Linked DNA regions of Homo sapiens: region 2 is linked to region 1. The links come from fine-mapping of genetic effects on gene expression. A gene starts in region 1. The other region holds a variant in brackets. All regions are shown on one strand. Distances are between the middles of the regions.

Evidence for each region. PIP is the estimated chance that this variant, and not a neighbour inherited with it, causes the effect.
Region 2: its variant is fine-mapped to the expression of NAA35 in whole blood (TOPMed, PIP 0.96).

Annotation. Positions count from the first base shown.
Region 1 is chr9:85,938,876-85,944,263 of GRCh38, forward strand. It overlaps NAA35 (N-alpha-acetyltransferase 35, NatC auxiliary subunit), which reads left to right and starts at 2,271. Exons shown (of 23, transcript NM_024635.4): 1 at 2,271-2,398; 2 at 3,280-3,408. The coding sequence starts at 3,285. RefSeq lists a silencer at 2,175-2,854.
Region 2 is chr9:85,969,831-85,975,218 of GRCh38, forward strand. It overlaps NAA35 (N-alpha-acetyltransferase 35, NatC auxiliary subunit), which reads left to right. Exons shown (of 23, transcript NM_024635.4): 7 at 5,137-5,203; 8 at 5,284-5,327. Among named protein-coding and RNA genes, the nearest start is that of NAA35, 31 kb to the left of the region's middle. The variant C/G (reference allele first, on the strand shown) is at 2,608.

The sequences.
Region 1 (5,388 bases):
GTGAGTACCTACTATAGGCCAACCACTTCCCTAAGTCCTGGCGACACAGCTTTGATCAAAACAGGCAAAACTTCTGCCTTTGGGAAATTATTCTGTAAGAGAGATATGCATTCTTAATTTTTAAAGTTTTTTGAGACAGTCTTGCTCTGTTGCCCAGGCTGGAGTGCAGTGGCATGATCTCGGCTCACTGCAACCTACACCTCCCAGGTTCAAGCGATTCTCTTGCCTCAGTCTCCTGAGTAGCTGGGAGTACAGGTGCACGCCATCACGCCCGGCTAATTTTTGTATTTTTAGTAGAGATGGGGTTTCGCCAAGTTGACCAGGCTGGTCTTGAACTCCTGACCTCATGTGATCCACCCGTCTCAGCCTCCCAGAGGACTGGGATTACAGGCGTGAGCCACCACGCCCGGCCATTTAAAAATTTTTTAAACCAATTTTTGTGAAGTTCGGTTTACAAACAATAAAATGTACACATTGTAAGTATATACTTCAGTGAAATTTTACAAATGTATTCACCCACACAGGCACTACCTTAATCGAAAACAGAATATTTACATCACTTCAAATCAAGCTCTATCCAACTTAGTCTCTTCTTGAGCCCTGAGCAGCCACTAATCTGTCTTCTGTCACTATAGATGTCTTTTAAGAGCCTGGGGTCTCACTTGGGGAATCATACTCTTGCATTTGATTTCTTACTCTGTCGCCCAGGTTGGAGTGCAATGGCACCATCTCGGGTCACAGCAACCTCTGCCTCCTGAGTTCAAGGGATTCCCCTGTCTCAGCCTCCCAAGTGGCTGGGATTACAGGCGCACGCCACCATGCCTGGCTAATTTTTTTGTATTTTTAGTAGAGACAGGATTTCACCATATTGGTCAGGCTAGTCTCCAACCCGACCTCTCCACTGCCAGCCTCCCAAAGTGTTGGGATTACACGCATGAGCTACCAGCTACCAAGCTCAGCCTGATTTCTTTTACTCAATATATTTTTGAAATTCATTCATGTTGTATGTCAAGTAGTTTATCCCTGTTTATTGATAATTACATTCATTACATTGTATGGATATGCCACAAATTGTTTTTATTCAACAGTTGATGGACATTTGGGTTGTCTGTAGTTTTTGATGATTAAAAACAAAGCTGGGCCAGGCACGGTGGCTCATACCTGTAATCCCAGCACTCTGGGAGGCTGAGGTGGGCAGATCACGAGGTCAGGAGTTTGAGATCAGCCTGACCAACATGGTGAAACCCCATCTCTACTAAAAATACAAAAAACAGCCTGGTGTGGGGGCAGGCGCCTGTAATCCCAGCTACTCGGGAGACTGAGGCACGAGAATTGCTTGAACCTGAAAGGCAGAGGTTGCAATGAGCCGAGATCAGGTCACTGCACTCTAGCAGGGGCGACAAGAGTGACACTCTGTCTCAAACAAAAACAAAAACAAAGCAAAACAAAGCTGGTATGAACATTAACGTACAAGCCTTTGTATGAATATGTTTTTGTTCCTAAGTAAATTCGTAGATTACTGGATCGAATGATAAGTATATGATTATAAGGAGAGATTGTTAAGTTTTCCAAAGTGGTTGTACCATTTTGCATTACCACCACCAACATAACAGAGGTCCAGTTGCTCTGCATCCTTGCCAACATTTGGTATTATCTTTTCCATCTTTTAATTTTGGGCCATCCTAAAGAACAGGTGGTGATAAAGATGTGCTTCTTACCTGCGCCCGTCTATTTATGTAACCCCATTTAAAAACTGATCATTTTATTAATAAATTAAAAAAATCTAAAACATATAAGAATCTGAAATTAAATGTCTGGCTTGACTTTGCAGATATTTTGAATCTATGTTTCCTCACGAAACTCCCAGGCGCTGTATAGGAAACATAAATCCGTTGTCAGGCAGCAGTAGCACGCTGTTGCTCTCGGAGCTTGGCTGCTCGTTCGTGCTCGCAACCACTAAGGTCTACGCAAACCTCCACGGTTTCCTTCCGCCTTCGCGTCACCTTTCTAAGAAATTCCCAGAGGGCAGCGCAGACGGGGCGGGCTCTGAGACTCCGGGCTCCGCCTCTTTCCGGGAACCGCCCACTACCCAGGACTCCGACAGAGGGTGAAAAAAGATAACTTCCGGTCTCGCGATCGTCTCTAATCTCGCGAGAAGAGAAGGCGGCCGCCATCGGCCGAACGGAGGCGGTGGCGAGGGAGGGGGTGTGGCCGGGGAGCGCGAAGTCCCCGGGAGTAAGGGAGAGGGGGCGGGGTCGCGCGTCCCGGGCATACGCATGCGTGCACGCTGCCGGTCGGGCTGGGCTGAGAGGGGAGGGGGCGGCGGCGGCCGAGGCGGCGTCGTTATTTCCGTGGTCCGGACAGTGCGTGGCGGCGCGGGTGACCACGGGAGAAGTAGGTAGGGACCGCCCCTGCGTAGCCATTGAAACCCTCTCGCTCGTGTGTCCGAGAGCCGCAGCCCCCCGCGCGTGTGGCAGATCCTGGGGACCCCAGGTCACCCTGCGGCCCCGGCCCTCCCGCTGCGCGTCAGGTAGGAGCGGCGGGCTCCCCAGTGCCCGCTGTCGGCCGAGGCCCCACTCTTGCCCGGTGTTGCCGAGGCGACGACCCGGCGCCGGACGTGCCCGCCCTCCCGCGCGGCGACAGCTCTGTCCTTGCTTATGCGCCCAGTGGGACCGGGGCTGGGCTGGGCTGACCCGGGCAGGGCGGAAGGGAAGCGTGTGCCCGCCTCAGGTGTGCCTCGGCCCTAGGCCCGGCCGGCGGGACCCTGCGGTGCCTGCCGGCTCCTCATTGCTCCCGGCGAGGTTCTGCCTGGGTCCGGGCCGGCTCTGGCCCGGGAGAGGTCCCAGCGAGCTCTGGCCAGATGAAGGGCTACCTTGATTGACTTCGGTAGCTGCCGCATGGGGTCCTGGGCTGCGAGAGGGGACCCTGAATAGTGCCTTGGTCTTTTGTGGCTATTATTGAAAGTTGGAAGCTCTGGAGTTGTTCTTTTCGGGCCAGAGGTGAGATGGTTTGTGATTTTTCTTCTTAAACAGTAGGAAGGCAAAATGTTTATGGGCCCTGGTAGGTGGTGGGCTAATAGTAAGCAGCAGGAGTGTTAATTGACGTGCGATTTGATTGCATTAAGGTTATTCTTTGCAGTACTGTCCTTAGACTCAGAAGAGTTCTGCTTTAAAGAGTTTAGTTAAGACTTCATCCTATGCTGAAACAAACACCCATTTCTGCAAATACTCTTGCCCTGAAAGCTACATCCTCTCTCTTACATCAGTATTAATTTTACAGGCATAATGGTTATGAAAGCTTCTGTAGATGATGACGATTCAGGATGGGAGCTCAGTATGCCAGAAAAAATGGAGAAAAGCAATACAAACTGGGTGGACATTACCCAAGATTTTGAAGAAGCTTGTCGAGGTGAGTCTGATTTTTGGATTAGAAGTTCAGCATCTGGAAGGGGTAGAATGACGATTGTGCTTTCTAAACTTACCTCATTAGATGAAATCAACAGGTAAATGTGGTTTGTTGAGTTTGTTAGCCACACTTATTCTGTATCCTCTAATTTTAACTTTAAAGCAAATGTATATTTGATACAGCATTAAATACAGATGTTGAGGCAGTATTTTAAAATTGAATTTTTCTTGCTTTAACAGGTTAGAGAGAGCAGTAATTTCTAACTGTGGAAAACACTTTGTTAATCTAAAAGATAATAGTATTTTTGTATGTTTGAGGTTTCAGTATGATCAGATCACATCATTCCTTGTTTAAGATTGTCCAGTGGCTTCCTGTTGCAGGTAGAATAAAATCCACCCTCCTTCCCTATGGGTCTATAAAATCTGGTCCCTGCCTGCCACTCAGGTTTCATTTATGTGCCACTGTCCCCGCCAGGCTTATTACATTCCAGTCACAGGTCTTTTTTATCTCTTCGTAATACACACCAAGGTGGTTCTCCCAGGTGTTTGCATTTTTTGTTTTCTTTCTTTTAAATTGCTTTGCCCCTCGCTTTCACACAATTCTTCTTAAGTGTTAACCTCCCTGGTGAGGACCTCAAAACAACCACTCATTCTCTCCTCTGCAATTCCACCTCAGTTGAATCACTTTTTATTTTCTTCATACAGCTTATCTTTTTCAGAAGCCATAATTGTCAATTATTTCTTGTTTATTTTCAGTCTCACTCACTGGAATATAAGCTCCGTGGGGGCAGAGATAATTTCTGTAACCCTAGTATACAGAACAGTTCCTGGCACATAGTAAATTCAATAAATAGGAGTAAATGATTGGAGAAATGAACATGCTTGTTGCTTGAGGGGAAAGAGTCTAGGGAGAGACTGAAGATAAGAGAAAGGAACAAATTAACTAGAGTGAGAGCTTGAACGTTAAAGAGAGGATGAGATCAAGGAGATAGTAGAGAAATTGGGGAAAAGCACAGGGACACACTGAGACAGGAAGGACTGAAGTTAGGATGAAGATAAAAGTATATTTCTAAGTGACAGAGGAGGACTGGTGAAGGAATTCACTCCTGATGGCTTGTATTGTCTCAAGCAGCTTAGGTCTTTTGATGATAGGTAGGGTGTGTTTGGATAGTGCTCTGAAGGGGAGGAGTAAAGACTTGGGGCACCTGCAGGTGGAAAGGGAGCCAGCTGTGTATAAGCAAAATGATAAATCATGTGCCATCCTTTGTTTTGAAATCACTTTTTATAGCCTCAGTGAGACAGTGGAAAGGACGTAAGACTGGGAGTTGGGTGACTGCCTATGTATGTCTATCTAAGGAAGAGAGAAAGAAATGTCAAGTTACAGTGTAGTTTTTGTGCTCAGAGATCTTAGACTATTAAGTGGATTATACCTGTCATCTTGCACTGATTTTAAGTAATCTCTATTAGGGGGCTGTCATTATTAACCTAAATAGGGAAGGTTTTTGAAGGTTATATGGCTTGGGTTGGGCCTTAAGGAGAGATCAAGTTTTTGCAAAGGGAGGTGATAGAGTTATTCTAGACTGAGATGAACTATGTGAGTCAGAGTTTGGTGAGGTTTTTATGTTAGGGGAACAGTAAATAATTTTACTTGGCCACAAAACAATTTTAAATGCTGGGAATTATAGAGCGTCTTTAGTGCCATTGATGTTTTTTGTTTGTTTTTGTTTTTTTGGTTTGAGCTTGTTTTATAGGCAGTAGGAGTAATGGATTTGAGCATAAGATTGAAAGTTTGTTCCCCTTGATGATCAGTACAGTGGCTTGGACCAAGTAGCTTCTCAGTAAGTAATGTAGTAAGCTTTATAGTCAGATATGAGCTGGAGTCCTAACTCTGTCACTTACTAGTTTAGTTTCCTTGGAGTTTAATTAATCTGAATCTTAGTTTTCTACTCTGGAAAACAGAGCTTCTACTTTAGAGAATTTTGGG
Region 2 (5,388 bases), 31 kb after region 1:
GTCTGGATGGTCAAATGACTCTGTCTCTTAAAAAAAAAAAAAAAAAAGATGTGTTCATATTCAGTGTCTCTGGTTTTCTTCTTTTTCTCTCTGCTCTAGTCAGGCTTTACACCTTTCACTAAAACTACTGTGTCACAGTCATCAAAGACCTCAGTGTTAAATTCAGTGGTTAGATTTGGTCTTAAACTTGAATTACCAGCAGATTTTGACGTAGTCATCACTCCATCCTCAAAATACATTCTTTGCATGGCTTTTAAGATGCTTTTCTTCCCTGGTTTGCTACCTCACTGGTGGTTCTTGACTGTTATCTCTTTCTGTAAACCAGAACTATACCATAGAAATATAATGTAAGCCACATGTATAGTTCGATTTAGTGTTCTAGTGGCCATGGGTGAAAATAATTTTAATGCTATATTTTATTTAATTCAGTATATCTAAAATATTAATGTTTTGGCTGCATAGTATTGTGTGAAGAGTACAGTTTTTGAATACTTATTTCTGGCAATCAAAGGATGCTGCAACTACTGGACAGAAGTATAATGAGACACCACAGGATATATACCTAGTCTCAAAATATCTTTCCACCAGATACTTATTAATTACAAAGGGAAAAATGATAGCTTTGTGATAGAGAAACTTGGCGGATAGCACCTTAGTCAAGTGGCCAGAATTACCATTAGTAATTGGACAGATTGACACGTGCCGGCTTATACAGTGCTCTAGGAAGGACACATCATCATTTCTGTGGCATTCCTATCAAATATGATATAACTTAAATTTAATCTTGAAGAAATATCAGGCACACCCATTACTGAGGGATATACTACAAAATGTATACTACAAAGTACTATTCAAAATATACTATTTTGAAGTACTGTTTGAAAAGATACTTCCAAGTGTCAGATATGAATGTTAAGGACAGAGGAAATGCTCCAGATTAAAGGAGGTTAGAGACATGAATTTCTGTATTTGGTAATTGTACTGTGATTATGCAAGAGGAAGATTTTGTTTTTAGGAAATCACGCTGAAGTGTTTAGAAGTAAAGGGGCGTCATAGTCTGCAACTTAATCTTGAAGGTTTCATTTTGTCATTATCACAAGTGCTAACCTGTTTGTTAATACTCACAAACTGTCTTCTCACTTGTTAAGATGAAAGCATTCCTGTTATAATCTAAGCTCAGCTCCTCCACTTGTGTTGCATTACTAGGCTCTCCTTCACTACTCGCTTACTCTTATTGGCATGTAAACATGCTTTACATTCATTTGAAAACACCACAGTTTCCTTGATCCCATGGCTCCTTGTATCTACAGTCCCATTTCCCAGCTACTTGCCAGGAAAAATGTCTTTAATGATTTGCTTATGTTACTTTTTCTTTCATTTTATCTTTATTTACTCCAAATGGTCATTCTTTACCACCACTACAGAGAACTGGTCTTTACCCATCTTGCTAAATTCAGTGTTCTCACCCCTCCCTCTCCAACCTGTGAGCATCGTTAGACCCGGTTGACACACTGTGAAATACTTTTTTCTCTTTGTCTTCTTAATACCAGTCTTTTGGATTTCTTTCTGCCTCACTGGTAAGCCTAGTTCCTGTGCTTACGTCTCTAATTGCTAGAGTACTCCTGGACTCCCTCCCTCCTCCATAACTGTTCCCTAGGTTGATTTCCTCTAGTTCTGTGGCATTCAGTATCAACTAACTATACAATGATGAAGTCCAAATTTATACCTCTAGGCTTGAGTCTTTCCCTGACTTCAGTCTCAAGCAAGTGAAATCTGAAATCTCCACTTGGATGATCAAAGAAATTACAAACTTGATATAACCAAAATTATACTTCATTTCTGCCCTTACACCTGCTCCTCCCAAATACTGCCTTATCCCAGGAAATGGTACCATCACCTGCTTAGACCAAAACCCTAAAAATGAGGCTTGATTGTATAGTTTACCTCATATCCACATTCAGTTCATCAGCATATCATGTTAGCTCTACCTTTGAAATATATCCTGATTTTTTTTTTTTTTTTAACCAACTTCTTACTCTCCCCACTGTTGCAATCCCAATCCAAGTCATCATCAGCCCTTGCTTGGACTGTTGGATAGAGTCCAATGTCTGATCTCCCTAGTTTCACTCTGACTTCTGTCCTCAAGTCCACAAATCTTCAAGAGTGATCTTTAATGGTAGCAGTCTGTTTACATGACTCTCTTGTTCTCACTTATCCAATAACTTAGATTAAATTCTTATTACTGAGGTTTATATTCCCAGGACTTGTGATGTTCTTCCAGAAAGTTTTCCTAAGACTCTTCTTGGCAAACTTACAGATAAGTTTTATGGATATTTTTGTTTTGTTGTTTTTCCTCCACAGTGTTTGTCTGATTTTTTAAAAAAGGAAGAGGAAGCTGGATGTGGTGGCTCACACCTGTAATCCCAGCACTTTGGGAGGCTGAGATGGGTGGATCACTTGAGCTTAGGAGTTCGAGACCAGCCTGGACAACATGGCGAGATCTCATCTCTACTAAAAATACAAAAAAATTTAGCCCGGTGTGGTGGTGCATGCCTGTATTCCCAGCTACCTAGGAGGCTGAGGTGGAAGGATTGCTTGAGCCCAGAG[C/G]GGGGTGGAGGTTACAGTGAGCTAAGTTTGCGTCACTACACTCGAGCCTGGATGACAGTGAGACCCTGTCTCAAAAAAAAAAAAAAAAAAAAAAAGGGTCGGGGGGTGGAGATTTTATGTTGAAAAAGAAAAACCTAAATTTTTTTCTGAAAAATTAGGAGACCTGACCACACTGGCCCTGTATTCATTCATAGCCACAACAGGATAAGTAGTGGCTGACTCCTTTTAAATGAAGCATATGTTTTCCAATTTGCCAGTCTCTACCATTCCCTAGTGTATGTTGTAGCTAGCCAGATGTATTTAGGAAGATAACCTGCCTTTTGAGTTCATGACCCCTGCCCTGGAATAAGTCATTCGTTGAACACATATTTATTGAATAGAAGTCTGTTTAGCACTATTCTAAGTCCTATAGGTGAAGTAGTAAATAAAGCCGTGATCTCATGGATTATACCTTTCTTGGGACAGATAGTCAATGTATATGTAATTAAATACACATATAATGTCAGGTGGTGATTAAGTGCCATGAAGAAAAGTAAAGCAGGCTAAGGGGATATAAAATGGTGGATGGTGCTGTCTTAGAATGCATGGGGAAAATCTCTATTTGAGGAATTGACATTAGAACAGAGGCTGGAATATAAGGGATGAAACCTTGTAAATATTTTGAAGAAAATCATTTTGGTGTGGGAGCCGTGAGAGGAGAACGTGTTTGGTATGTTTGAATGACAAGAAAGACCTGTCAGACTGCAGTGCAGTGAATGTGAAGTGGTAGGAAATAAAGTTGGCGAGGGAGACCGGGCCATGTGATGTAGGGCCATAGAGGCCATGGTGGACTTAGGGATTTTGCTATGAGGTAGAAAACTATTGAAAGGTTTTGAATAGGAAATGACATGATGTGACTTATTTTCAGACAATCCTTCTGCCTTCTGGTGGTATATAAATTATAGCAGGGACTAGTGTGGTAGGTGGGGGAGTTGTCTGGAGGTGGTTACAAGAGTGAGCAATAGTGGTGACTTAAACTAGAGAGAGCTGTGAAAGGGTGAAAAGTAGTTAGACTAGAATCTGAAGATAGAGCCTACAGTGTTTTCTGGTAGATTTGATACAGGATGTAGAAAAACGAGAGGAGTAGAGGCCAGGTTTTCAGCCTGAGCAACTCTAGATAGGTAGTAGTGCCATTTAGTGGTATGGTAAACACTAGGAAGTAGGCGTCAAGCTCCTTTTTGGAGATGTAAAATTTGAGAATCCTGTTTGATGTCCAAGTAGAGACAGACTATAAAAGAGAATAAGCTTATATAGCTCTGTAATATGATGAGTGTTTTTTTTTTTTAAGGATTTGATCATGTAAGTCATAAAATACACCTGAGTTCTTTGAGACCAAGGACATTGGGTTTATTTTCTTACTGTTTGTGGGGTATAGTACCTCACTTGAATTTGATGCTCACTGTTTTTTTTTTTAAGAATCCAGAAATTGTGCTGTAGCTCCATCCCCTTTTGAAACTATTGTTCTGTTATTTTAGGATTCTATCTACATTTTTTTTTTGAGGCAGAGTCTCACTCTGTCGCCCAGGCTGGATTGCAGTGGCTCGATCTCTGCTCACTGCAGCCTCCACCTCCTGCGTTCAAGTGATTCTCCTGCCCCAGCCTCCCAAATAGCTGGGATTACAGATACATGCCACCATGCCTGGCTAATTTTTTTGTATTTTTAGTATAGACGGGGTTTCACTATGTTGGCCAGGCTGGTCGTGAACTCCTGACCTCAGGTAATCCACCCGCCTCGGTCTCCCAAAGTGCTGGGATTATAGGCACGAGCCACCATGCCCAGCCCCTAGCTATGTTTTTATAGGAATTATAGTAGGCAGAAACACTCTTTTAATGGGGCATATGACTTGTTAATCAAATCAGCCAGATGACAGTAAATGTATTTTCTTCAAAGGAAGTCCAGCAAATCACTTAATTTGTTAATGACTCAGCAATGAAATCATTTAAAAAATGATTTGGGGAATGGGGGTCCTATGTCTGAATGACTCAGTTTTTTTCCTTCCAATGGACTATAGTGGAACATGGTTTTACTCTCACTTTGAATAATTCTGTTTGAGAAATCTTAACTGTGCAAGCAGTCACTTAATAATTTTTTAAGTAGTCTTATCTAAATCTTGCAGCACGGTCATTTAACAGTAATTATTACATATTTACTGTTCACCTGTGAATGTGAGACTACTTTGTGAGAATTATTACTGTGCGATATTTTCTTAAGCATTACCCTTATATGGCAAGTGAACGTATTAAATTGCCTAAGGACAAGCAATTGAAAGTAAGGACAGAGACAACATTTGAATATGGTGTTTTAAGTGTATGCCTTCAAGAAAAGCTTGTGTGTATCCTAGCAATATTTAGACAAGCAGGATGACCTCCCATTTCTCTTTGTTTATTAAATAGTGATTTTGTAAGAGAAATATAAAGAAAAGTTTTATATTTTGCCGCTATTTAAGGTTTTTTGCTATTCATGAGCCTGATTATTTCCTTTTTGTATAGGAAGATTTTCAGTCAATGACTTATGGATTTAAAATGGCTAACAGTGTGACAGATCTTCGAGTTACAGGTAAAATTATTTTTAAAGTTAATTCACAAGTTTTACATTTTCATATGTTTCCTTTTAAAACTTATTGTTTCTTTTTCTAGGCATGCTAAAAGATGTGGAGGATGACATGCAAAGAAGAGTAAAGGTATATATGTTTTCTGTTTGGTGTGGGGTTTTGGTACACTTCTAAATGTCAGTTTAACTTT